Homo sapiens: one gene and its partner. The protein of the gene in region 2 purifies or fractionates together with the protein of the main gene of each other region. This does not show direct contact. Each region holds a gene or a part of one and is shown on either strand. Other genes may lie near its edges.

Region 1 (3,500 bases), on a different chromosome or scaffold from region 2:
ATGGTGGCGCGCGCCTGTAGTCCCAGCTACACGGGAGGCTGAGGCAGGAGAATGGCGTGAACCCAGGAGGCGGAGCTTGCAGTGAGTCGAGATCGCGCCACTGCACTCCAGCCTGGGCCACAGAGCGAAACTCCGTCTCAAAAAAAAAAAAAAAAAAAAAAAAAATTGGGTAGACCAGTTCTTCTTACTTTACTCTTCTCAAAATTGTTTTAAATATATTAGTTTCTGTACATTTCCATATAAAATTTAGGATAGTCTTATCTATACCTACAAAAAAATCTTCCTGGGATTTTGATAGGGATTATTTTAAACTTGTGTATCAGTTTGGTCTCCACTGACACTGCAAAACTTCATTACTGGTCGGTTGGTTGGTTTGAATGTCCAGGATCCCTCCAGGTCCTTCTCTGATTCTACACTAGTGGAGTGTGTTGGGGTGCTTGATTGTAGGTAGAAGTCCAAGCTCTCCCCACTTGGCCTTTGTAGCGTGCCTGGGGGTGGGATTACAGTTTTGTGTGTGTGTGTGTGTGTGTGTGTGTGTTTGTGTTTGGCTGGAGTAGAATGATTATTATCTAAAACTTTTCTGTCTTCCTAGGCTGCCCTTTGTATAGTTCTTTAACGAGAAAGCAGGCTTTTATTGGGGGGTTTTATTGTTGGCATCTCTTGCCATTTCTGATTGCTGGGATCTTTAGTGAGCTGTAGGAGGCAGAAGAAAACCCAAGGAACTCATCATATTCCTTGGGTCCTGAGGTTCATAGCCAGTCTGCCTTATGCTTGTTTTATATATAATGTCCAGAGTTTTATTTGTATTTTGCTGGCGGGGCAGGGAAAAATGTGCTTATCTTCTTGCAAGCTGTGTCCACATTTTCTTCTTTTAATTATAAAAATTTTGAATATTTAGAAAAGTCGTATAGGATAATGAACATGAACCTATCTAGTTTCTAGTTTTAAGAGTTGTAAATGCTTTTCAGTATGTCTTAATCTATTTTTTCTTCTTTTTTGAGATGGAGTTTTGCTCTGTTGCCCAGGCTGGAGTGCAGTGGTGCACTCTCGACTCACTGCAACCTCTGCCTCCTGGGTTCCAGCGATTCTCCTTCCTCAGCCTCCCAAGTAGCTAAAACTGCAGGTGTACACCACCATGCCTGGCTAATTTTGTACTTTTAAAAGAGATGGGGTTTCACCATGTTGGCCAGGCTGGTCTCAAACGCCTGACCTCAAGTTATGCGCCCACCTCCCCAAAGTGCTGGGATTACAGGCATAAGCCACCCAAAGTGCTGGGATTACAGGCATAAGCCACTGTGGCTAGCCAGTCTATTTTTTCTGAGGTCCTTTTAAAGTAAATTATAGACATAATGACATTTCACTTCTAAATATTCAATATGCATCTCTAAAAAATAAAATTTTTGAATATAAGGACAATACTTTATATCGAATGATTTATAATAACTTCTTCATATTATCTAATATCCAGCTTATATTCTGATTTCCCTAGTTATACCCAAAATTTCTTATAGCTTGACAGACAAAGAAGAAACAATCAAGAACATGAACTGCATTTTGTTGTTAGGCTTTTACGCTTCCTGTTATCTGAAACAGTTCCTCTCCTACTTTTTCCTACTTGACATTGATTTGTTGAAGAAATAGTTCCTGTTGAACCTTGGAATGTCCCATTGTCATTAGGGTTTTGTCTGATTGTTTCATTGTGTTTCTTTTTTCAATATACCCAAGATAGTACTTCATCCTTGTGTTTCTTTATCTCTTGTATTTTCTATAAATTTGAAGTTAGATCCAAAGGCTTGATTAGATTCAAATTTGGTGAGAATATTTCATAAATGATGCTACGCTAAGCAGATTTTCATAAGTTGATTTTATTTATAACTTTTATGTGGTAGAGAATATGCCTTCTGCATCCTGTGATACACTACTGGATGACATCGAAGATATCGTGTCTCAGGAAGATTCAAAACCACAAGATAGGCATTTTGTAAGAAAGGATGTTGTCCCGAAGGTACGAAGGCGAAATACCCAAAAATATTTGCAAGAGGAAGAAAACAGTCCACCAAGTGACAGGTAAGCTTTTTTCCTTGAAATTATATTCATTTTCTTTTTTTTTCTTTTGAGACAGAGTCTTGCTCTGTCGCCCAGGCTGGAGTGCAGTGGTGTGATCTCGGTTCACTGCAACCTCCTCCTCCTGGATTCAAGCTATTCTCCTGCCTCTGCCTCCCTAGTAGCTGTGATTACAGGCACACACCACCATACCTGGCTATTTTTTGTATTTTTAGTAGAGATGGGGTTTCACCATGTTGGCCAGGCTGGTCTTGAACTCCTAACCTCAGGTGATCTGCCCACCTTGGCCTCCCAAAGTACTGGGATTACTGGCCTGAGCCACTGAGCACGGCCGAAATTATATTCATTTTCATTCCAGGGAGAAGCTGACGCTACTGGTCTGTGTGATATATATAATGTCTCTTCATTAGAATCTTTGAACTTTTGATAGGAAATACAAGTTGAGTATCACTTATCTGAAATGCTTGAGACCAGAAGTGTTTCAGATATCACATTTTTTTTTTTGGATTTCGGAATATTTGCATTACATACTTTCCAGTTGAGTATTCCTAATCCAAACATCTGAAATGCTCCAGTGAGCATCCTTTGAGTATCATTTTGGCACTCAAAAAGTTTCAGATTTTAGAGCATTGTGGATTTTGAATTTTTGAATTAAAGAAACTCAACCTGTATGTAGATTTTTTTTTTATTTGAATGATTTTAAATTTGGCAAGGTAATTGGTTAAAAAGAAATGAGATGTCAAATTGGATGTTCCTAGAAGATAGCCTCGGGCAATAGGGATCTCTTGGGTATTACTGTAGTTGATATGTAAGTCTGTGTTATTTCCAAATAAAATTTTTACCAGAGTTTGTGATTCTTATGAGACAGTAGTATTTTGGACATTTGAATTTTCTTAGCTGATTTTCAAATACCTGTGGATCAGGTAAAGGCAGTGGGCACAAATAAATTATTGCCCTATTTACGCTATTATAGTAGATCTCTAGTCCGTGAAATTTTGATACAACCTAACCAGAAAGGATAATGTAATTATATGGTTTTAATAAGCCTATATTTGTTTATCTAGTCAACTGCTGAACTTTATAATCTGCTTATTTTGTTGGGAAACTAAGCTTTTAAATTCTTGGAATTTAAAATTTGCTTATATTTTAATGACTGAAGTTTATAAAATTTGTCCTAAATGTGTCCTTAAGGTAATTTTTATTTACTTATAAATTATTAGAGCAATCCAAGTTGAAAGTCCTTTTTTCCCCTAAAAGTTATTTTTAGAACTCTGATTTTATAGAGTGCTTTTAATAATGCTTTAGGATGACGGTTTTTAACTTTGATTAAGTTACTTATATCTGTAAGTTTTAAGGAAGCTACAGATTGCAACTAGTATGTAGGAATCTGTAAACAGACATACTTTTCTTTATTTGCCATTGCTGCTAGAACCACT
Region 2 (2,316 bases):
TGTGGATTGATTGCTTTGCCATCCCCACAGCAGCTTTTGCAAATTGCTTTCCAAACTCACTTGAATGATGACATTGCTGTGGACCTGGGTTCTGGACCTGATCTGCCACTTCAAGCTGTGTAATTTTTGGCAAGTTGCTTTCTTTGCCTGGTCCTCAGTTTGCCCATCAATATAATGGGTGGATTGGATGATTTTTTTTTTTTTAATTGAGATGGAGTCTTGCACTGTCACCCAGGCTGGAGTGCAGTGGCGCGATCTTGGCTCACTGCAACCCCCGCCACCTAGGTTCAAGTGATTCTCATGCCTCAGCCTCCCAAGTAGCTGGGACTACAGGTGTGCACCACTACTCCTGGATATTTTTTTGTGTTTTTAGTAGAGATGGGGTTTCGCCATGTTGGCCAAGCTGGTCTTGAACTCCTGACCTCAGGTGATCCACCCGCCTCGGGCTCCCAAAGTGCTGGGATTACAGACGTGAGGCACCACAACCAGCCTGGATGATTCTTAAGGGCCCTTCTAGGACCAAAGTTCTGGGAATTTCTAGCTTATTCTGCCCCCTCATAGCCCTTGGCCTATCTATCTTTATCCACATGCAGAAACATCTGGCAACCCCACATGGCTGAGATGACCTGGTCCTAGGACACCCTTGGACAGAAGACTGGCCTACCTAGCAGACCTGGATTTTTCTTCCTGATCTGCTGCTTCCAAGTTGTGTGACCTTGGCTAAGTCACTTAACCTTTCTGATTGTCATTTCGCTTTTTAATAAAGTGGGTCTGGTGAACAAGAAATGTAATAAACACGTGGCTTGCCATTCAAGAGATGAGTCTGACCATTCACTTTCTGTGTGCCAGAGAAGAGAGATCATGGGTATAGACCAGCCCCTGGAAAGGCTGCTTTGGTCAAGGCTGAGAGCAGCTTTGCTCAAGGAAATTATTCACGAAGGTGACCACTGTCTTTCTGACCTGGCACAGAGGAAATGTTGGCTGTGAATGTGACCAATAGAAAGAAGCCCGTATTTCTCAGTCAGTCCTAGAACCCCGGTAAGTAATTAACAGAGAATAAAAATGTGTTTGTTAAATGACAAAGCAGCAGTTTTTCAATTGTAAGGTCTGCTTGAGAGCCTTTGATGTGTGTTTCTTTTCCTGACTTTTCCTTTCTTTAGAATTTTTGATGGTCTCACCTGGTGGGTGGGGCTTTCAGGGTATGCCCACAATGTACATTTCTCGGCATCTGTGCCTCAGTTTCCTCATTTATAAAATCCCTATGATCTCTGTCTCACCTACTTTACAGGGTTGCTGTGAAGATCGCATACTACACACAGGAATGCTCATCAGTTTTTAAATTTTATTTAATTTTTATTTATTTTTTTTTAAATGTAATTTTTTCAGAGAGATAAGGTCTTGCTATGTTACCCAGCCTAGTCTTGAACTCCTGGCCTCAAGTGATCCTCCTGCCTTGGCCTCCCATGCTGCTGGGATTACAGGTGTGAACTACCATGCCCAGCCAGCTCCTAAGTCTTAAGGCTCTGTGTTAGTGATAGATGTGGCCATGGTGTAGGCAGTGCAATGTCTTCGAGTGAGAGTGAAGGTGGTAACTCATTGCATGGATTCTAGAGTTCTGTTTATTCTAATCCAAGTTCTTCCACTTAAAAACAATGTTCTTCCTCTCATTGAGTCTCATTCCTCATCTATAGGATGGGAATAAGAGCATGTACCTGGCAGGTTGTTGTAAGGATTAAATGGTGTAAAAAAATGTCAAGTGCTTGCAACTTTGAATACCAAACTTGAGTGAAAGCTCAATAAATTGTTACTTAAAAAATTTTTTGTCTCGCATATTGTAGATACCTGATGTATATTTTTGTTGATCTAGCAGGTCATTAACCGTTAAGGTTATTCAGTCTGCCTCAGACCTCAGCTATTTCAGTGCCATGGGGTATATTTATGTCAATAAAGATTTTAGTCAAATCTCTGGAATTCAGCATCCAGAGATAATATAGCAAGGAGATAAAGAGCAAGCTGGTGACTTTGGGCCAGATACTCACTCTTACTGTACTTTCTGTACCTAATTTCCTCATGTATTAAGGGGGGAGTGTGATAATAAGGGGGATTAACGGGAGTGATTGATGTGAAGCACAAAGCCTGGTCCACAGTAAGGGCTCAGTCAGTGGGGGCGTTTCTTCTGCAGCTGCTGGCTGCTGTTGGCTCCTAGTTTATGTTATCCTATGTTATCTTATAGTTGAGTGTTTTTACACTTAGGTCTGTGATTCATTTTGAGTTAGTTTTTCTGAAGGTTGTAAGGTCTCCATCTGGATTAATTTT

The links.
Region 1: the proteins of TMEM268 (region 2) and CDKAL1 purify together in Homo sapiens (affinity purification with mass spectrometry; one large-scale study listed by BioGRID and IntAct). This does not show direct contact.

Annotation. Positions count from the first base shown.
Region 1 is NC_000006.12:20,544,457-20,547,956, forward strand, and holds part of CDKAL1 (threonylcarbamoyladenosine tRNA methylthiotransferase), read left to right. Parts: intron 1-1,882; exon of another isoform or gene 1,883-1,889; 5' UTR 1,890-1,894; coding exon 1,895-2,067; intron 2,068-3,500. UniProt on the Homo sapiens protein: Catalyzes the methylthiolation of N6-threonylcarbamoyladenosine (t(6)A), leading to the formation of 2-methylthio-N6-threonylcarbamoyladenosine (ms(2)t(6)A) at position 37 in tRNAs that read codons beginning with adenine.
Region 2 is NC_000009.12:114,644,607-114,646,922, forward strand, and holds the end of TMEM268 (transmembrane protein 268), read left to right. Parts: 3' UTR 1-1,816; downstream 1,817-2,316. UniProt on the Homo sapiens protein: Stabilizes cell surface expression of ITGAM and participates in the adhesion and migration of phagocytes during bacterial clearance.